3 linked regions of the Homo sapiens genome follow. The protein of the gene in region 3 interacts with the protein of the main gene of each other region in a pairwise test. Each region holds a gene or a part of one and is shown on either strand. Other genes may lie near its edges.

What was found. Proteins that work in one complex are often made in the same cells at the same time.
Region 1: the proteins of BOD1 (region 3) and PCSK2 interact in binary tests that used the Homo sapiens proteins (3 or more experiments, as listed by UniProt).
Region 2: the proteins of BOD1 (region 3) and TPH1 interact in binary tests that used the Homo sapiens proteins (3 or more experiments, as listed by UniProt).

What each region holds. Positions count from the first base shown.
Region 1 is NC_000020.11:17,481,196-17,486,081, forward strand, and holds the end of PCSK2 (neuroendocrine convertase 2 isoform 1 preproprotein), read left to right. Parts: intron 1-388; coding exon 389-875; 3' UTR 876-3,383; downstream 3,384-4,886. UniProt on the Homo sapiens protein: Serine endopeptidase which is involved in the processing of hormone and other protein precursors at sites comprised of pairs of basic amino acid residues. Responsible for the release of glucagon from proglucagon in pancreatic A cells.
Region 2 is NC_000011.10:18,035,267-18,044,113, forward strand, and holds part of TPH1 (tryptophan 5-hydroxylase 1), read right to left. Parts: intron 5,523-8,847; 5' UTR 5,497-5,522; coding exon 5,380-5,496; intron 877-5,379; coding exon 693-876; intron 1-692. UniProt on the Homo sapiens protein: Oxidizes L-tryptophan to 5-hydroxy-l-tryptophan in the rate-determining step of serotonin biosynthesis.
Region 3 is NC_000005.10:173,604,835-173,613,681, reverse strand, and holds the end of BOD1 (biorientation of chromosomes in cell division protein 1), read left to right. Parts: intron 1-426; coding exon 427-551; exon of another isoform or gene 552-555; intron 556-4,011; exon of another isoform or gene 4,012-4,104; intron 4,105-4,247; coding exon 4,248-4,443; 3' UTR 4,444-4,444; intron 4,445-5,389; coding exon of another isoform or gene 5,390-5,417; 3' UTR 5,418-6,537; downstream 6,538-8,847. UniProt on the Homo sapiens protein: Required for proper chromosome biorientation through the detection or correction of syntelic attachments in mitotic spindles.

The DNA.
Region 1 (4,886 bases), on a different chromosome or scaffold from region 3:
CATGGTGAAACTCCGTCTCTACTAAAAATACAAAAAATTAGCCAGGCGTGGTGGCACATGCCTGTAACCCTGGCTACTGGGGAGGCTGAGGCATGAGAATCACTTGAACCCAGGAGCTGAAGGTTGCAGTGAGCTGAGATCACACCACTGCACTCCAGCCCGGGCAACAGAGTGGGACCCTGTCTCAAAAGACAAAAAAAAAAAAAAAAAAAAAAAAAAGAGATAAGTAACTTACTCAGGCTCACACAGCCAGTGTGGGAACTAAACCCAGGTCTGATTGATCAACCCCAAAGCCCTTGCCCTTTCCGCCACCTGAAGCTGCCCTCAAAATCCCTTGTAAGGTGCACCCACCACTGCTTATCCTATCTCCTCTTCACTCTGCCCTCAGGAAAATACCATCCACTGGCAAGTTGGTGCTGACACTCACAACCGACGCCTGTGAGGGGAAGGAAAATTTTGTCCGCTACCTGGAGCATGTCCAGGCTGTCATCACGGTCAACGCAACCAGAAGAGGAGACCTGAACATCAACATGACTTCCCCTATGGGCACCAAGTCCATTTTGCTGAGCCGGCGTCCAAGGGATGACGACTCCAAGGTGGGCTTTGACAAGTGGCCTTTCATGACCACTCACACGTGGGGGGAAGACGCCCGAGGCACCTGGACCCTGGAGCTGGGATTTGTCGGCAGCGCCCCGCAGAAGGGGGTGCTGAAGGAGTGGACCCTGATGCTGCATGGCACTCAGAGTGCCCCGTACATCGACCAGGTGGTGCGGGATTACCAGTCCAAGTTGGCCATGTCCAAGAAAGAGGAGCTGGAGGAAGAGCTGGACGAAGCCGTGGAGAGAAGCCTGAAAAGCATCCTTAACAAGAACTAGCGCTGCACATCCGCCTTTCCCACCGCCCTCCCTCCCCAGCTCCGCCTCTGTCCTCGCTCCACGTTTCAGGCAGGCACCTAGCAATTCCATCACCCGTACAGGCAATTCCGTCTTCTTAATCTGAAGCTTCACTCACTGTCAATGATTATTTTCATTACAATGGAAACAATCTTTTTTACTCTATGCCCCAAATATAGCGTTCCCAACAACATCCATGTCCTATGTGTGACTCTAAATTCTTTATTTCTGTCATTCAAATGGGTGATATCCTGAAAAAAAAAAAAAAAAAAAAACTGGGACAGCTTTCCCCTCATTTTTTTTTTTGTTTCTGAGAAAAGAACGTATTTTAAAAGCCACATAGAGTGACTCCAAGAACAATTGTCCATGGTCTCAAACAAGGGGCTGTTACATAACAAGAAAATCAAAGCTGAGGACAGGGTGTGAGCGCCACATCTCTGAAAGCACAGGAGACACTGTGCTATAAATCCTTTGGGGAGCGATGTTTTGAATTTAGTGAGATTTACCAGGGATGTAGATTAAGGTGATGTGATTCAAAAGATGCCATTCATAGAGAGCCCTAGTTACTGCATGGGGAAAGAGATCCAGGAAGCATGAGTGCTGGATATTTTACTACCAATGCCAAGATAATTCACTCTACTCAGCCGGCGTGGCAAATATAAAACTTACAGAGCGTGGCTGTGCTCTCACCAGCTGCTGCTCTGAGTTATGTTAAAATCCGCTAGAGCAGCCCAAATTTTTCTCAGTTTGTATAGAGTTCATCCCAGCCCCAATTTTCTGGGGCTCCTCACATAGCTACCCAAAAGAGAAAAAAAATTAAGACAAGCCTGGCAACACACCTGGTGAAGAGTAGTTTACTAGCTTTTCAAACAAGAATGTCCCTTTTCCTAAGTCACTTTGAGGTGTCTCAATCTGATCTGAGTGAGAGGCGACAGGAGTATTTTTTTTTTTTTACAGCTTTACACACACAGATGTGGGCTTTGATTTCCAAGTAATATAATGGAAGAGAAATCTCATACTCCCCCACAGTTTGATGTCATTAATGTGTTGGGAAAAAGGCCTCTGTCCCGGAAGAGTCATGGGAGGTGAAAGGGGCACGTTTGAAGATGCGAGCGCTATCTTCACATAGTTCTCCAGTTGTATGGAGCCTCTTCTGCCAAGAGAGGGCCATGCAATTCATCCCAGAGGAACCTGAGGCCTGAAGGAGGTGAGAGAAGACCTCTGTGAGGAAAGCACACAGTCACCTTCTCGGCAACTAAGCAGTCCCTGAGACCATTTAACATGCAACCCGAAGGTTATGGTCAATCCCAAAAGTCACCACTCCATTCCCAACTAGACATTACCAAAGTGACCTACCCAGAGATTGCTTCTCATCCCCAGTCCCAATGCACATCCATTCCCAAGAAATGCTTTGTCTTCAGCCTCTCCAGGCACCATCTCCCTTCCTGTGGGAGCAGAGAGCTTAGCCTGGAGCACCTTTCCTTCAAGCCAGCAACACAGAGCACTAGGTTCAATTCCCTGAAGGTGGCCACTTTAAGAGAGAAATCTGAAAACCCCATTTGCTTTCTTTTCTCCCATATTGGCATGGATTTCTGTCTTCTCTAACACCTTGTGACCTTCTCTATATCATGCTTTAAAGTGTAATAATATGATTTTTTAAAAGAAATTTATTACTTGTTGCAAAGGTCTTTTTAAACCAGTTTAGATTTCAAGAAAAAATAAATGGAAATCATCGAAAATTCATTTCACATTAATGGTCTAAAAATAAACCAAAGGACATTATGTGTGCATGTGTGTATAAGTGCACACAGAAATATATATACATATGTAGACTATATACATGTGTGTATATATGTGTATATATACATACACTTGTATAAATGTATATACACATATACCTATAATGTGTGTATGTGTATTTATTGAAGAAACAGATACCATACTCATTTCTAAAAGAATATTCAGAGAATATCAAGATGATTCTGGCTGAAAAAGGCCAGTGGAAATTCAGGTGAAAATGTTCATCAATTCCCATTGCATCACCTCTGTAATTTTTCAGCTCTCTGTATAAACATTAAATGTCTTATATAGCAGCAAAAATATAAAATAGTTGTCCATATTTTCACAGGTGTGGTGTAATTTATAAAATTAGAAAGCAACTTATCAGCTACTTAAGAGAAATGGCAAGTTTTGATATGAGTATACAATATATAAAAATATATATAGTGCTATATATATAAATATTTGGTCTCTATTTCATTTTTTGCATCAGTATTAATACTAAAATATGTCTCGCTAGTGATGTTTTTATGATATCCCTGATCCTAACTGAAGAGACAGTTATTTATAGTCATTTATTTTAAAAAATGAAAATAAGTGAATAATAATTAGGTTAACATTGTTGCTCCCTGTGACAAAATTTTATAAGCAAATTTCAAAAGACATGTTGTAAATTAGGAGGCTCAACAATAAAACATTATGCTCCAGAAATTATGTGAGATGTGCTATATTGTACATGAAAATACTTTCATCCATTCTAGGAACAGATAATTTAAAAATTGCCAAAGAGAGATCTAAAGAGCCTGCTTTACTAAGTATGCATAAAAGACTTATAATTAACATATAAATCATACACAAATTATTATCTACAGCAGTATTTTTCAAACTCTAGTTACATCCATTAGTGGGTTGTAAAATCAATTTAGGAGGTCAGTTTTTAATAAAATAGAGTAATTTAGAATACAGTAGGAGAGAAGAAAATCACAGGATAGGATAGGATAGAATAGAATAGAATAGAATAGAATAGAATAGAATAATCATGCATAATAAGGATAAGTATTGTTTCCTGAAATATTTGTTTCAGATGTGTGTGTGCACACGTGTGTGTGTCTGAGTGTGTGTACTGGATCACAATGTAAAATACATTTTTCATTGTGAGTGATGGTCAAAAATCTTTTAGAAACACTATTCTAAAATATATTAATCAGGCTAGACTAAGTTATGCTATAGTAACAGACAATCTCAAAATCTCAGTGGTTTAATACAACAAAGGTTTATTTATCATCCACACAAATTCCAGTGAAGGTTCAGGTGACTCCCCAAAGCCACAGACCTCCATGCAGTGACTCAGGATCCAGGCTGTTTCACCGTATGGTTTGTAATCATAGCACAAGGCTGCTACAATCACCATGCAGAAGAGAACCCAAGGAGGACATTCATCTGCTCTTCTATGTTTAGCCTGAAGGAGACACATGCATCGCTTCTGCCCATTGCCCACTGGCCAGTATTGGGCAATAGCCCTGGCTAAATGCAAAGCAACTGGGAAATCTGTGACAACTAAGGGAATATTTGGTGAGCATTAGAGTCTCCACTACAGAGAGTGCTTGACATTCCCTTAAAACATGTTCTTAAGAACCGATTTAACATGGCAATCACTCTTCATGGATGGTACCATGAACATTATTACAAACTGGCTGTACCTTACCCCATAGACCACAGACTATTCTAGAAAAAGACCTTAATAATTATTCATAAAATATTAATATACTATATTTACCAAAGTTAATTATAAAAACAATTTATAATTCTGTCCTCTGATATAACACTTAAACTCAATTATTAAAATCTTAGCCGGGCATGGTGGCATGTGCCTGTAGTATCAGCTACTCAGGAGGCTGAGGTGGGAGGATAGCTTCAGCTCAGGAGGTAGAAGCTGCAGTGAGCCGTGATCACACCACTGCACTCCAACCTAGGTGAAGAGCAAGACACTGTCCCAAAAATAAATAAATATAAACAGAGTCTGTTACTAAAAATAGATATTGGCGGATATAAGGTCCAAGGTTTGATCTTGTGATCCTGAGACACTCCTTTTTAATACTTAGGTTTAAAGATGGATTTCCAAAAGATTAAGTTTAAAAAATGATTTTTAAAAATTCCGATAGAGTTACTACTCTATGTCTTCATTCGTATCACTTATAAGTTAATGCATGGTTT
Region 2 (8,847 bases), on a different chromosome or scaffold from region 3:
TGAATTATAGGTTTGTCAAATCAAGAAATGTTGATGATTTGGAAATTGAGAGATAATCAATTATCAATTTCTGATTATGCCAAATTGTCTGTCTTTCTTTTTCTTTCTTTCTTTCTTTTCTTTCTTTTTCTTTCTTTTTTCTTTCTTTCTTTCTCTCTTTCCTTTCTTTTTTTTTTTTTGACAGGGTCTTGTTCTGTCACCCAAACGGGAGTGCAGTGGTACAATCTCGGCTCAGCTCTACAGCCTCAACCTCCTGGGCTCAGGTGATCCTCCCACCTCAGCCTCCAGAGTAGCTGGGACCATAGATGCATGCCACCACACCTGGCTAGTTTTTGTATTTTTTGCACAGACTGGGTCTCTCCATGTTGCCCAGGATGGTCCTGAACTCCTGGACTCAAGTGAGTCTGCCTCGGCTTGCCAAAGTGCGGGGATTACAGGCATGAGCCACCACACCCAGCTGTTTCTTATACTCAAGATTTTCTTTTTCATTTCTCTTACACTTGATCAAATGTTGCTTTATAATTTTTCTTTGGTATCTGGAGCAACTATATTTTGTGTTCCCTTCACTATCAGACTGTAAGCAATTTGGAGAGCTTGTGTTTTATTATTTTAATGTCTTCAAGATAAATATAAGGCTGGACACACATTAGGTGTTTCATCTTCTAAGTAGTATTTTCACATTTTGAACTTACCATCTTCCTTCAAAGTAAAATTATCTGGTAGATTCACAGAGAGAACATTGGTATGAGACTTCAGCAGATGAAAAATATCATTCAATTGTTCTCTGTTGATGTCACAGTCAACAAAAATCTCAAATTCTGAGTTTCTTCTTTTTGATTTTCGGGACTCGATATGTAACAGATTCACATGCTTCTCCTGTGTAAAGCACAGGGAAAAGATTTCATGTAACTGCCTCAAATGTTAATAGTCTTTGAGCAGGCTACTTTAATTACCACTAAAAATCAGATTCACACTTCTCAGAACAGCAAAGGGAAAAAGACTGTTTTTAGTGCTGCCAACAACAAAATAATTCCTTCTTAAAAATTATGTATTAGAAAACTTTTCAAAATTCATCCCATCCTCCAGAAACCAATAAAATAACACACACTAGAGGTCCTTCAGATGTCAGAATTAATCAGAATTCAAATCAAAATATTATTAAGTTTCCTGGGTAAGAGGAATCTTTTGAAAATTCTCATAAATAAAAGCTAGTTTTCAAAAAGTGATACCAATGTTAGTCCTGGAGAAAGAAGAGTTTCCCTTTCAAAAATCCATTTAATTAAATTAGATGAACAGCTTGAGCACAGAGTATTTAATACCTCAAATCTCTTAAGCTACAATCTTAGTAACAGCTGAACCAGATCTCCTCTTCTGACCTCTCCCAAGTCAGCCTAAGATGGGGGTGCTCTGTGTATAAGTGTGGGAGGAGGGTATGTTCTCTTACCAATTTGGGTAGCTGAGGAAGAGTGCTGGGGACATGATAATGAAACATGAGCACTAATCACCCTATAGTTTTTTCATCTAAAACAATGAGAAGGTTAGAGCAGATAATCTCCAATACTAACCAGTGCATCCTAAAATAACTTAATGAACACCTGTGTAACTAGGTAAGGGCTGCGAAGAATATAAAGGGAAGACATAAAGGAATTTAGAATCTAGTTGGTGAACACATGGAAGATTAAGAAAATAAAGTAAAGAGTGTTCGGATGCAGGTGCTCAGCAAAGGGAAAAGCATTACGACTTAAGAGAGAGTAGAAAGTTTCATGGAGCAGGTGGGAACTTAAATGAATCTTAAAGAATAGATAGAATAGGCCAGGCGTGGTGGCTCACGCCTGTAATTCCAACACTCTGGGAGGCCAAGGTGGAAGAATCACTTGAGCCCAGGAGTTCAGGACCAGCCTGGACCACATAGCAAGACCCTGTCTCTACAAAAAATAATAAATTAGCCAGGCGTAGTGGCGCACACCAGTAGTCCCAGCTACTCGGGATACTGAGGTGGGAGGGTCACTTGAGACCAGGAGGTTAAGGCTACAGTGAGCTGTGATTGTGCCACTGCACTCCAGCCTGGGTGACAAAGTGAGACCCTTTCTCAAAAAAAAAAAAAAAAATATTATCAGGGAACATGAGCTAACAAGAAAGAGGAGTGAGTGATAGAGGATGTTAGAAAATTAGAATAGGCAGGGTTTATCTGGGAACATATAATTTATCACAGAATCAATAGAAGTCAGTTACAAAATATATTGGGATTGATCAGGTGTAAAGAAGAGTTTCATTTCATCTATTTCTTATAAATTTTTACATTAATAATGCATTTGTAAATATTTTCTAAATGATGACTTGAATAAATATAAAGCTAAACTATGTCTTTGGAGAAAAAAAAAGATGCAAAAATGTCAATCATTCCTAAATTAAAATCTCAATGGAATTTGGTGAGGAAATGTAATTAAATAATTTCCAAGTTCATCTGGAAGAAAAATACGGTCTGGAAAATTCAGATAAAGTAGAAGTAGTAAGTGAAACATTCCCTATCAGACATTTCAGTTACAGAAACAGAGGCATAGAGAGGTTAAGCAGTTTGGCCAGAAGCACACAGGTGACAAGTGTCAGAGCCGGAATTCAAATCTAGTCTGTCCAGCTCCACAGTCCATGTGCTTAAACACTATGCTGTAATCCTGTTGCCCAAGAAAGGAAGAGTCACAAAGGTGGATACTAAGGCTCTTCTTCAAACAATATTTACATAATCTTAATAATAAAGACACTAAAGATTGACAGAGCCAAAAACCGGGACACAAATACATTGGGAAGACGAGTGGAAAAGAAGTTGAAGAGGCCATCGGAAGGGGAGTTGTGTCAAGAAACCTAAATTTTTACTTCATTGTTGAAAATCAATAGATAATTACCTATAATTCTAGAAATCAAGAAGTAGAAGCAGAATAAGCATATAACTTATAAGTGTGGAAGTAAATATTAGAAAAATAGTTTAAAGAGTTGAAAATGGTTGCCTCCACTAGGCAGGGGATAACTAGGTTGTCTCCACTAGGCAGGTGGAGACACACCCAGAGAACACCATGTAGCAGTTAGAAGAATGAATGAGATGTTCACACAGCAGCGTGCATAGGTCTTAAAAACACAGTGCTGGATGGGAAAAAGAATCTTTATAGCACAATATGATTATATAAATTACTAATATACGCACACACAAAGACTACATATTCTAAAGTGCAGACAAAGTAATTCAATGTACATATCAAACATGAGAGCAGCTCTCTATCAGAAGAGAGAAATGGAGATAGAATTCAAGAATGAAATAAAACAGGAAGAGGTTGCACAAATCAACGATGATAGTGTACACGTGATTTAATGAGTGTGATTAACTCAAGCTTCTGCACACAAGGTTGCAAAAAAATTAAATGGAACTTTGGAATGAAGAGAGATGGAGCAAAACACTACTTTTTTAAAAATATGTTTTATAGTACAGGTTGAGTTGTTTTTAAGCTATGCACAATTATTCTTCGATTAAAAATTAAATTTAAAAAAAGCTGATGGAAGAAGACATACAGGTATTTTATTTAAAGACCCAAAGGTAATCAATAGAATAGCTAAAAGTAATAATAAAAGTATCAGATTTGGAAGGACTGGGAGAGGGAAGGGAGGGAGGTGGTATCAGTATCATTGTTCATAATAGAAAGTAAATGAATATAGTGTGAAGTTGATAACTTGAAAAGACATATAAGAGCAATGTTTAGATTTCATAAACTCACCACCAAAAAAACTAACGACCAGAAATAGTTAAAAGAGGTTGCCTCTAGGGAGTGGGACTGAGAATATGGTATGTGTTAGGTAAGAAAACTGATGCTTTTCATTACAAGCTCTTCTAGACTATCTATATTTAAGATTTTTAATTCTTTGAAATATTCTTTGCAAACAGCTATATAATAGTATGTCATATGATTATTAACATAGCTAACATCTATTGTTCACTTACTTTGTACTGTACCATCCTAAGCATTTTAGAGATATTAACTCTACTAATGCTCACAATGACCCTATGAGGTAGGTAGAGTTCTCATTTTATGGACATAAATCATGAAGTGTGGAGAGATTAATCAATTTGCCCACGATCACCCAGGTAATAACTGACAGAGCAAGGATATGAATCCAGGTGGCCTGTCTCTGGAGACCAGAGCTTAACCACAGTGGTGTTCTGCTATCACAATTCAACATCCCCTATATTAGGACAAGTGGCTTATTTATAATTTTTAGTTCCTATAAACAATAAATCTTTGTGTGTCCCTGAGCCCTTAAACTCAGTTAGGTCCCCCAAGTTCAATGCTGTCAGAATATCTGGTATTTCTGTTTCATGTCACTTTACACATAGTGATTATTCACTTACTGCAGTTGTTTGTTTAATGTTGCCTTCCCCACTAGATTACATACTCTGTGAGGACAGGCACTGTGTTTACTTTGTCCAGCTCCACATCCTTAGTGTCTGGTGTGGTACCTGACACATAGTAAGGACTCAATAAATATTCGTGTTCTGCCTGACTGATCCATATTTTTAAGACAGATTTATGAAATTAGAATTATGGGTCAAAAATATGAACATTTTAAGGCTCATAATACATATTACCAGATAGTTTCCCTACATGGTACACAAATTTATCCTTGTGCCAAAGGTGCATTGGAGGGTAATGTACCTCCAATGCAATGAAGTTCTGACAATAGGAGACACTGTCATTATAGAATCTTTGCTACATGAAAATAATATCATTAAATATACTATGACTATATCATTAAATCTCAAGTATATAATTAATAATATATGATTATATATTGATAAAATTTTAATATTTTATTAAAATAAAATTAAAATTTGCTTCTCTAAAATCTATAAAGTGAATCTTTTCTCCCCCATTTCTCGAAGTAGCTATTTGTATCTCCTCTTCTGTAAATTGTTTGTATCCCTTGTTAGAATTCAGCACTATTTTAGAAATGTAAGTTCTTAACAAATGTTTGTACTCCATCTCTGAAGAGTTTACAATAATTTATATATATAATATATAAAAATTATATATTTATATATTTTATCTATATATAAATATAGATATATATATAGAGAGAAAATCTCACTCTGATACCTAGGCTAGAGTGCAGTGGTGTGATCATAGCTCACTCACTGTAACCCTGGACTCCCGGACTGAAGCAATCCTCCCACCCCAGCCTCCCAGGTAGCTGGAACTACAGGAGTCCACCACCACACCCAGCTAAATTTGTTTTTTTTTAAGAGATAGGGTCTTGCTATGTTGCCCTATATTTTAAATATAGTTTTAGAGATTCATTTCTAGAAGAATTCTGTGCAAAAATACAGAAAATGCTTACCTGAAAGATTTTCAGGGCTTTTATAAGTCCTCCAACTTCATTCTTTAAGGAAAAAATGAGACTTGCTCTTCCCCTTTCTAAGGAATGGTCTTTGTTCTCCTTATTGTCTTCAATCATGATGAATTTGGAGTAATTCTCTAAAACTAAAGTATGAAAACAAAGACTACGGGCTAAAAAAGAAGTTGCACAATGCAGACAATATTTGATAACTAAGGGCTCATTTACTTCTAGGAGCTTCAGTTTCTTAACCTTTTATAAAACCTGGATATGCAGATAAGCTTTGCAAGAATCTAGTGAGACCAAAATAAGATACAACTTTGCCTGACACCTGCCTAGAATAGAATACATGTTAGTAGTTCCCTTTTGTTTTTTTTCTAAACCAATCGCTCTTTTAGGGCATGACTGAAGCCTGCTGGCTTCTTGCAGTCTTCCCAACTATTGTAGCCTAAACTAGTCAGGAAGGCCTACCTCCTCCCCACCTTGCCCACAATCTTAGCACTTCATTATACCAGGTCTCAAATGGTTTCCCCAAATGTTCTATTCGAACATATCTCACCTTCTAACAAGGCAGCAAGCTCCTCCAGAGTGGGGACAAGGCTTTCTATTTATTTTGTAAACTAAAGGCCTGGCCAGCTCTAGATACATATGCACTAGATGGATAACTGCTAGCCAGGAGAATTCTAGTTCTGCTTCTCAGAAGATGAACCAGAGATCTACTTTGGTATCTTCTTAACCACCTATTTACACTGCAAAACAGTGTAAGGAAATATGTGGAATGTGAAGTCAGACATATCTAATCATTGGCCTCATGTTTATCAGTGTATGACCTCGGGCATGCTACTTAACCTTTCTAATATAAAACTAAGTTACCAAACAGCTACCAGAACTCATAACATCCAAAATTCTCACTCGTTTTAAAACATCATAACATGGCGTGCTATTCTGAGATTTTCCTCACGGAAGAAACTAGGATATTTCAGGTACCAAGAAGAGTTAGAGATACATAATTCAAAATTTAACTAACATTTATGAATTCATTGGGTTCAAGTTTCCAAAACTACCAAGATTTTTAAATTATGCCAAATTAGTCTCTAGAACTAAAAACAATTTCTATTTCAAATGCTATAAAACTAAATGGCCAGTTAAACTGAATAATTATGTGGATTTTTCTTTGATTCAAATAATTACTAATGGTAAAACGAATAAAATTTCAACCCAAGCGCATTCACATGTGTGAAGCACCACAGTCAAAGTTAGGGCAGTAAAAATTTAAAAACAAGACAACTTGCCTCCAAATAATTCACACACTTGTTCATGGGGAAGGAGAAAATGGAAGACAGACTTCTCAATAAGTACAAATAAGCAGAAAAGAAGGGACACTGAGATCCCAGCCATGACACCCAAGGAGTACACTCAACCACCCCTCACCTTCCCACCACCCCACCCCTTTGATCAATATCCCATGTGCTTCTAAAGATGACTGAATATAGCTTCTAGCCCATCCATGAGTCTCTGCTGAGAAAGGATTTATGGATGAGAAGCAGGAGATCTTAAGAGATTTTCCACTTCAAAGGAAGTGACCATTTCTTAAGGTAAACTTAAGTATACACAGAAAATTCCAAATTGGTGGCTCTGGGGCTAAAAATTCAGGGATGGCCTCAGATAAGCATTCTCAAAATGTTTTTAGGGATGTGAAAACTTTCAGAAACGTTTCTTACCCATTCAATTACCACTCAAAGATTGACTTTTCTTATCAAACACAGAGTATGGGCGACGTTGTCCTAAAGCGTGAAAATGTAAACAATAAAAGAGATGCAAAATAATATAACAAATTGCTAGTAATAAATCTTTCTGCAAATCCATCTAGGCAAGTTATAATCTTTATATGTATCAACCTCTTTATTTGCAAACTTGGAGGGAGGATAATTAACACCACTCTCATGATTATAAGGAGGATTAAACATATATAAACTTATGAGAATTAAATAGTTATAATTTACATAAAACTCTTAGAACAGTTGCTAACCTACACTAAGTACTCAATAAGTATTATCTCAAGTAATGGGGAATATGTCCCAAATTTTCCAGTTTTCAAAAAAAGAGAAAATGTTCAAGTAATGAAATAGACATTCTAAATACCTCTGGCTAAGAATTTTTCTTGCCCTAGGAATTAGGCATTTTACAAGATGGTTAACATATTTCTTACAATAGCAAACATGTGGAAAAGTTGCTTTATGATATAAAATGTCAGTATTGTTTTGTATCAAGGTGATTTCAGTTTCATTAATTTATTATAAAACCCCTAAAGTGTATTAAATTCCAAATCTCAAGAAAATAATTCAGCAGTTTTTTTGCAAACAAATAGACAAAGACCCCAAAGTAAAATGTACTGAGTTACCCTATAGTTACTGAGTCCTCATGTTTCCTGATACCATCACCATGACATGCAGAAGGAAGAGGATTCTGCAAATATAAGCTATTTCCTGGCCAACCACTAGCTTCATCATGTAAATCAGCTTTAAGAACTGGGAGCAAGGATCAGAGAACAGTAAAGAAAAGTTACCACTGATTTTTTCCAGTCAGTGGTAACACTAACAGAATTCTAGATCTCCTGATAATTTGTCTTTCAACAACCTCTTGGAGCTTGGAATAAAACTCTTCATATAAAACTATATGAGGCCAGCTGCTGCGGCTCATGCCTGTAATCCCAGCACATTGGAAAGCCAAAGTGGGTGGATCACTTGAGGTCAGGAGTTGAAGACCAGCCTGGCCAACATGGTGAAACCCCGTCTCTACTAAAAATACAAAAATTAGCCTGGCATGATGACACATGCATGTAATCCCAGCTACTCGGGAGGCTGAGGCATGAAAATCGTTTGAACTCAGGAGGCAGAGGTTGCAGGGAGCAAGATCGTGTCGCTGCACTCTGGCAGGGCAGTAGAGTGAGACTCCGTCTCAAAAAACAAAAACAAAAACAAACAAACAACAACAACAACAAAAACTATTATGAAGAGCCTGGGTAACATAGTGAGATGCTGTATGAACAACAACAACAAAAAAAATTGTTTAAGTTAGCTGGGCATAGTGGCTTTCACCTGCAGTCCCAGCTACTAGGGAGGCTGAGGCAGGAGGCTTGCTTGAGCTCAGGAGTTCTAGGCTGCAGTGATCCATGATCGCGCCACTGCAGTCCAGCCTGGGTGACAGAGTGAAACCCTGTCTCTTAAAAAAAAAAAAAAGAGAATTTCCTTCAATTTTCAAAACTGGTCCCTAAGCTTTCCTGGAAGTTGCTATTGTGAGAAGGTGCTAACAGTCATGGCTCCATCCCTTTAGGGTTCATAATTATTTTCTTTACCTGATTCTGGAATGGATCAAGTTTTGTGCCAACATCTCCTTAGTTGGTGTGGGGAGAGGAGGGTGAAGGATACATTAATTGAAATTTATGATATGCAAGGCATTTATATTATTTTG
Region 3 (8,847 bases):
GCAGTAATGCTGCATAGCAAACTGAATCTCAGCAGCTTATAACCAGCACTTGTTCACATGTTCATGGGGCGGCAGGTCTACCAAAGTTCAGCTGAGCTAGGAAGGCTTCAGCTGGTGGCTTGGCTGCAGGCTGCCCAGGTGTGGGTCCAGGCTGTGGGTTGATGTCAGGCCTGCTGCATGTAGAGTTACTTAAAAGCAAATGGAATAATATAAGTAAAGCGCCTGGCATTGTGCCCACCCACCATCAGGTGGGCACTTGTGTTAACCATTAATTCCTGACTGCCACATTGCATGGTGATCTTCATGCACAGTGGAAGTGTATTTAGACTTAATAACGTTTCTGTGAAAAGCAGTGTTCTGAGAGACTAAGTTCAAAACTTTGGTGCATATAACTTCTGACCTTGCCTCCTCTTTTTAACATTTTAGCCAGCTTACCAAAACCTGAGGCAGAAAGTGGATAATTTTGTGTCAACACATCTGGACAAGCAGGAATGGAATCCTACGATGAACAAAAACCAGTTGCGAAATGGTCTGAGGCAGAGTGTGGTTCAGTAAGTAAGCAGAATTTAAAGCTTTTGAAAAGGCAGTCATCACAAGTGTGATGCACAAGAAGGTTGAGGTCTCTGTTTAGTCAAGGTTGATGGGACTTTATATCAAGTATCACTTAGGAGTTGCAGCAGTCTGCTCTTTTGTTATAATTAAGGTTAAAGGAAGCAAAGTACTCAGTTGAAATTCCAGTTTCTGCAGCCTGTGAAGGCCTCCTGTGTGCATCTCTACTGGGTGCATCAAAAGGCATTCCAAATCGTGAGACATTTTCCCTGCTCTTTGAAGTTTCAGTGTTGTCCAAACATATATGTGAGTTTTATACCAAGATATCAGGGTTTGGATCTTGGGCAAGAGGAGTTGGATCTTTATTCTCACAGGTGAATGTGAACTAAATAAATTCTTTGAGTCCACCAGGACTGCCACCTCTAAAGTGTAATGGTGACAGCTTTCAGGAAGGCATAGTCTTAATAAAGTATCGTACTTCACAGTAACAAACTGAACCTTAGTTAATAAAGGTGCTATTGATAGCTTATCTGAGTGACGCACAAAAGTGGAGGTGGAGGAGGGTACAGAAATGGGAGAACACATTAGTGATTGCCTGGGGTTACGGATGGGAGGAGGGGGTGAGTGTGACTTGCAAGTGGTAGCACAAGGGGGAGCTTGCAATGGTGCAGTTAAGTGTCACTGAATTGTGCTGTGCTCACGTGCAACAGCTCGTATGGTAAAGTCGCACGGAGCTACACACACAAATAAGTGCAAGTGTAACTGAAGTCTAAATAAGGTCTGGATTGGACCAGTGTCATTTTCCTGGTTTTGATATTGCACTAGTTACGCAAGGTGCTGACATTAGAGCTGGCTGGGTGAAGGGTGCGTGTGGAACTCCCTGGACTCTTCTTCACAACTTCCTGTGAATATGCAGCGATTTTAAGATTTCTAAAGTTTTTAAAAGTGTTTTACTAACAAGCTAGTACTTCCAATATGGCTGAATGCTGGGAAGAAGCCTGATAGCAGAAGATGCCCAGTGCCTTGTCATTCTGGAGTCAGTACCGAGTGCCTTTCCCTTTCTCCAGAGAACAGACTGGTGGCACCGGGCTCTTTCAGAAAGAAGGGGACAGTAGCTGCCCCTTACTGAGCAACTCTTTATTACATGTCTGGCACTGGTCTTTACATATATCACTCATCCTCATGAAAAGCCTGTTTCACAGCTAAAGTCACTTGTGTTTACCCTGTCTTGAGTAAATCAAAACACTGAACATTCTGAAATATTTGGAAAGTTGCCATGATTGTATGAAGGCTGTTAACATTGCTTTGATTTCTGTAATGAGCATGGATGTCATTCTAGAGGTATGCATGTGGCGCTTCCTCTTGCATTTCTTTAGTAGGAATTGTAATACGGAAAAGTGCACAGAAGTTCAGTGAAACAGATAATTAGAACATCCCTTGATCACCCAGATCGAGAAATGGACTCACACCCCCGAAACAGCCTAGCTCCGGATGTACTTTCCTCCTTTCGGAAGTTTTCCATATTCCTGACTTTTATACTAATCATTTCCTCTCTGCATAGTTTTTACCACCTCTGTGAAGTTGTTGTTTTTTTTTTTTTCCCTGCTTTTTGATTTGACTTAGAATGTGTTTAACCTGAAAACATGAACTTGGCTTTAATACTGGGACATTTCTCCACAATTCTTGCTAGCATTTTGAATTTGAGGCAAAATCTACTGGAGTTTCGAAACGCAGACTTTCTGCTTGCCCCCAGGTGCTCTCCCCAGGTGGACACTGCAGGCCTTCAGAGCATTGGCTCACTGGCCTGGCTGTTCTGGCCCAGATGCTGTAACCCAGTGCCACAGCCTAGAGGGTTTAACAGGAAATTAGCCTGTGCTATTGCACTGAATTATGACGAATAACTCTTGTAACTGTACAATATTTGTTTTTTCCATCTTGTACATTGGGCTCCTGACAAGATTTTATGTTTTCCTCAAAAGTTTAAGAATCTCCAGGAAAGTGAGCTGCACTCCCTTGGTAGTTTGTTTCCCCTGATCAGGGGTTTTGGTCAGTTGGGGATGCTTTAACAAGGCGCCGTAGACTAGGTGGCTTGTAAACAATGGAAATTTACTTCTCACCATTCTGGAGGCTAGAAGTCCAAGACCAAGATGCCAGCATGGTCAGGTTCAGGGGAAGGCCTTCTTGCAGGCAGCAGACTGCCAACTGCTTGTTCTTCTCATGTGGTGGAAAGAGAGCTCGCTAACTTCCTGGGGTCCCTTTTGTAAGGGCATAAATTGCATTCGCGGAGGCTCTGCCCCCATGACCCGATCGCCTCCCAAAGGCCCTACCTCCAAAGGCCATCACATTAAGGATTAGATTTCAACATAGGAAGTCTGGGGGACACAGGCATTTAGTTGATAATATCAAGCTTTTACATCTGGTAAAGGACCCTGTGAATCCGACTCAGGAAGTGGTTTGGTAAAGTTGGAAAGGTATTGGCTTGTGACTGAGGAGAGGTGGCTTTCCTTTGTTAGCATCCCATAGCCGGATGCTAACTTTGCTGTATTTAACGATGCTCATCACTAAGGGCCGATACTGTCTAATGCCTGGTCTACCTGAAAATGTGCCCTTCAGTGCTCTAGTGGTGGTGTATTTACATCTAGGCTTCCTGTCGATAAGCTGTTAGTTACCATTGAATCCAGGGAGCACTTTACACACTAATCATCTTTCCCAGTTCACAGCCTGTTTCTTATCTTCTTTGTCATGATGTACATTTACTCATGTCTTTCCTTTGCTGTACCCTGACAGACCATTTGCCCACTTGCTGCCCAGCCTATTTTTACCCGAAGGCTTAAATGGCCTCTGAAGTCTCAAGTCTACGGGAAAATAAGTAAAACCTGCCCACATGCTTGTGATGGTATTGGAATATTTCAGTCCTTTGAGAAGAACACTTCACTTTGAACCTTACGGGCTATTTTCCAGACTGTCCAAATATGATTTGTTTCCTCTCACCATCATTTCCAGTACCCTGTCCCAAGTGTTTGAATATAGACATTGATATGCCCTGATTTTTGCTCTACTTCAGAAAGGATCGGGGATGTAATTTAGCCCTCTAGGAGCTTGGAACTAATTTGTTTGTCTATTTCTTGTTTGCTTCCAAGTTGCTTATTATGTGTTACAGGTAGCAACTACAGCTGAAGGCCATGGTGAATTGCTGGTGATGTAAATACTCCCAGCCCTGACTGATCGGCCTTGTTTAAATTTTAAGGATTAGTAAACAGGTTGCTGCTGGAGCTACTTCTGCTTAGGCTATTAGGAGAATAAATGTTGAAGGAAATGGAGTCCAATTCGGGGCTTACTGGCTTTGACAGTACGAGGAAGCTTTTCAGTGCCACACGTGTCAAACTCTTTCTCACCATGCTGTCATTTGTTTGTTGTTTTGGAGCAACTCACTTAGTTTTGTTTTTGATTCTTTTGTACAAGGTTGGGTGATTGTGGGTGAGATTGTGCAGTAGGAATAACAGCTGCTGGTTGAGAATTACCCCTCAAAAGTGAAAATAGCGTGAGCTGTATATGGTAAGTGGATTGACCTCTAAACTCCCTAGAAGGGCTGTAGCTTTGAAGGTGGACATTTATTGGGCTCGCACGTGACACTTATTGGGGCTAAAGATGAATCCCGAAGGAACTAAATAACAGAATGATCTGTTTGTCTCCACAAGGTCAGGGATGTTGGAAGCTGGAGTAGACAGGATTATTTCTCAGGTGGTGGATCCAAAACTTAACCACATCTTCAGGCCACAAATAGAACGAGCAATTCATGAGTTCCTGGCGGCCCAGAAAAAAGCAGCTGTGCCAGCACCCCCTCCAGAGCCCGAAGGCCAGGACCCTCCAGCTCCATCTCAGGACACTTCCTAAGGTCCAGTATCCTATCTTCTGTCCAGGAGTATGCATCTCTGGCTTGTAGATATGTAAAATGGATAGGAATGGGGTAGGCCGTAATTGAGGATCATTCAGGAAGTATTTACTGCAGATGGACTTCACCTACTGTTATAAGTCACTTTTTACTGAGAACTAATTAGTAGCAGTTTCCTGTGTCAGTGACTGATTTTCTGTTCCACCAGCGCTAAACATGTAAGCTATGGATAGATGCTTCATTAGAAATCAGCTGGGATGATTGGTGTGCATAAAGGGGATTCAAATGAAAGTCTTATTTTGCTGAAATGTTTAAATGAGTCTCTCCTGGACATGAGTTAACTTAGGCTTGCAATTTTATTTAAAATCAAGCAGTGCCTTCTGAAGTGATATCCTAAATGGGATTCAGAGTCTGCTTTGAGTGCGACTCGATTTCCATGAATTTAGAAGGAGTTTGTTTACCACTATCAATTACCATGGGATTCTTCTGTTAGGAACACTCCCCCTTTTTAAATTAAATTTGGAATTAAATGTAATTTTAAACAGCTGTAGATGTACAAAAGAATGCTTTTTGCAGGTTTTGGGAGACATTAGTAGGAGCAGCGATGAAGTTAGCAGTGGACTTTTCGCCGTTGTTGGTGACTGCTGGGATATGTTTTATCCCTTCATTCTGATTTGGTGTTCTTTTTAAGATTCTCTGAGATGCCTGTTATAATCAGTAAGTGAGGTGAATTGACTAGGGCGTTTTGAGTGTCAGTGATGAGCAACGCAAGAGCATCAGGACTGTCTTTTTGTTCCTCTATTGAGAGAAGCCCTTGAGTCCAATATGGAGTGTAAAACATTCATTTTAAGTCTTTCTTTTTAATTGTAAATTCCTTTAGGAACATAAAAGTGAATATAGTCTGTTATCAATAAATAACATTTTGATATGATTATCTTTCCTTTTTAGAATACGCCAGACACCTTTTGAAAGCTAATTTTTGGTGAAGAAATGGATTCGGTTACATAAGAGTGCAACTTCAGACTGAAGATAGGCCAAGGTCGTCACTGATCTCAAGATTTCAACCTTGACCATGGGCAGTGACCAGATTGAAAGGGGAGCAAGTTCGGCAGTGGGAGAGTTGACCGTGTCACCCCCTGCATTGTGCTGCCATTTGGCCAGCCTGTCCAAGGGCATGACACCAAGTAGACACTACAGAGAGAGAAACACTACAGCAACCCAGGGTTGTCCTGAAACAGACTTTTATACTTGAACATGGAGACTGCACATGGACTTTAGGGTTTGTGCTGTGGGATAAACGGAAGCTACAGTGAGAACATAGCCAGTCCCAAAGACAATTTCAAAGAAAAATGACAGTAAAGATTAGCTGGGAGTAGTCTTTGACAGTGCTTATTTGATACTGTCTCTCAGAGTTTGCAAACCAGATTGTACAAGTCATTAGCGTCAGATAGCTTTAAAGTTGTGACCTTCTTGTACATGAATCTTCTAGCCAGTTTCCTTTCCTTTGTAACGAAACATGAAATCCTAGAATGTATGAGAAGTTCAGACATTAGGCATAAGGAAACTCGTTTGCAGGCTCTCTGTCCAGGGCTGCTTCCTGTCCTGGAGGGGCCAGTGAGTCTTAGGTATGTTTATTTTATTCTCACATTTGTGTTTTTTTAGAAAAGTGAATGGTCAATAAATGGCTTATCTTTCATAATAAAATTATTTGATACTTTTACTCCGAAGCTTCAGCTGAAGCTTAAACCTCAGGTCTGTGAAGGGCAACCTTTGTCTTCTGCCTCTGTGCACCACACATGATCTACTGGCAGTGAAGATTGGTACATATAACTTGGAACTATGAAACTAGTAGGTGTAGCTAGTAGTGGGCTGTTTCTCTCCTCCCTGAGCCATTACTGACACTGGTCTTTAGTTGAGGTAGTCCGTGGTATGTGTCAGTGTTTGTCATCCTTGTGTGTGCAGAAGTAGCACCTGGGGATTTAAGGGAAAATGCATATTTCTGATTAAGAAGTTCTGGGGTGGGACCTAAGAGTGAGTGTTTCTGACAAGCTGCCAGGTGATGCTGATGCTGCCAGGCCTCTGAACATACTCTGTATAATAAGCCTTGGATAATATATCCAAGATTATGTCTAACTAAGTCTGTGGTTCTTGGTTGAGTCTACTACTGCATATTGCTGCTAATCTGATCAAAATTTTAACCAATTCAGTTGGTTCCCTGTTAAGACAAAGGCTCCACTTCCACCTTTACCATGAATACCCCTGTATGAGCACTGCAGTGCCATATTCAGCAAGATGCTTGGTAGCATGTGCCCTAATTTTAAAGCAAACTGGCCACACGTTTAAGGCAGGTGCCAGTTATATCTGACGTGTGGTCTGTTCCCACCTGGTAGGTGCAGTTCCATTTCAAGCTGCCTTACAGTTGCAGGAGTCAACAAAGTTCTTAACCCCAGAAAATGGACCCTCCACTCCTCTCTACTACTAGGCAGACAGGGAGTGGCCAGAATTAACCAGTCCTGTGCTTGCAGAAAAGCTGCTCAGACTAACTGGAGTGTCTCCTCTTCAGGACCACATAGCTTTAATGGGAAGTTCCTTCCCTGTGAGGCATCCTTCTGGGAGGGAGATCTCCACACAACTACTTTGTGTTGACCCTCCCAACATCTTGCCTATCCCGCACTGACCTCAACTAGCAACAAAGGGCAAAAGCCCAGAGAAGGCTTCACCCTTTCTGCCCCCAAATGCTCAATTAACTGCATTTTATATATGTTTTTGGCAGACAGTTTTTGGTTCATCTCAGTTCTCTTACTTTGCTGCTGCTTTTACTAGAGATGGCTGGACCAGTTGATGAGAAACACCCGAATTTTCACAGAATGTTAAATGTGCCACATACCAAAGAGTTTCTATTTTTTTTTAAATCATTCTGTTATATCCACCAAGATTCACCTAGATTCGAGATTATTTCATTTGAGAACGTGAGATTATAGAAGTAATTGGGCACATCGTTACTGTTGGGATGGACGGTGGACTTTTTGGCTCTTAGCAACACTGAAAGGGAAGACGTGCCTAGATTGGTTTGGGTAACCATATTCAGACTGGCACAGGAAGGCGAGTCAAGACAATAGCACTAGAAGGCTTAGGGGAAAGAAAGCCAGCCTCTTCCTCCTCAGGAACTGGTCACCAGGTAAGCCTCTTTGCATCCTCAACTGAGTTCTCATGTTTTAATTGGGTTCGTGATATAGAATCTAGAAAAATTGTGTATGTTCTGAGATCCTGAGGAAGACAAGACCACCACAAAATTCCACCTCTTAAACACACCCTTGCTTAATTCAGTCCTAAACAAATTAGCTGTCACTGACCTCAAGCCAGTTAGGCCTCTCTCTAGTTGGGAAAACTGCTGTTTGCAAAAGCCCAGTAAAACACAGTTAATACATGAACAAATATTACCAACACTTGCAAGCCGATTGCGGTCATGAGTGTCTTAAGAGCGCCATCGTGTACGGTGGGGGTCAGCCAAGGTGGGAAGAAGGGTATCATTTTGAAGCCCAGTTCTTTTGTCTCGGACGGCATCTGTGATTGCTGCTGGAGATTCTTGTTTCTGGCATGTTTCCAGTTACCAGCTTAGATATTTGATTGGTATTGCCAACTCGTCTCAACCCAGTCCTGATTGTTTTAACTTTTGGCCTTTAGTGAGGTTTGTGACTCCTATAGCAAAATTGAAGGAATGGTTTTATCCTGTTTCCATCATTTTGCTTTAGCCTCTATTTACTCATCAGGTGGGTGGAGGGTAAAGGTTTCTGTGCATTCTGTGTCACTCACTAGCACCGTGAACTGAATAAGTGCTAACAGATCCATTGCAACAGTGGTTCTGAACGTATAATCCCCAACCAGCAGTATCAGCATCACCCTGGGACTTGTTAGAAATGTGGCCCCCACCCCAGACTCGGAGATGTGGAGGGCCCCAGCAAGCCCTCCAGGTGATTCTGGTGCGAGCTAAAAAGCACGTTTGCTCAGGAAACATTTTAATTCATAGTTGTGTGTGTGTCTAACAGCTCCTGAAGGGCAAGACTAGTATGTCATTTTAAAAAATTCCATAGTCCCTTGGAAGTGCCCAGAACAAGAGGAGAATCAAGTATGGGTGAGTACTAGAAGTCTATCTTAGCCTTTCTGACTGCCAAGTATATGGTGTATTTTCCCCACAAAGATACTCATCCTGCTCCATGGAAGATGATCCCAAAATACCGTCTAGTCACTGCATCCAACCCAAGGTTCAGGACATCTCTACAGTGGGGACTAGGCAGCTCCTCTGTTAGACCTAAGAAAACTCGGGTTGTCTGCCCAACATCCCACCTGATAAGCAACAGGAATCATTAGAACAGGGAGGAATGTGAAACCTTGCCATTCCTGGCCCG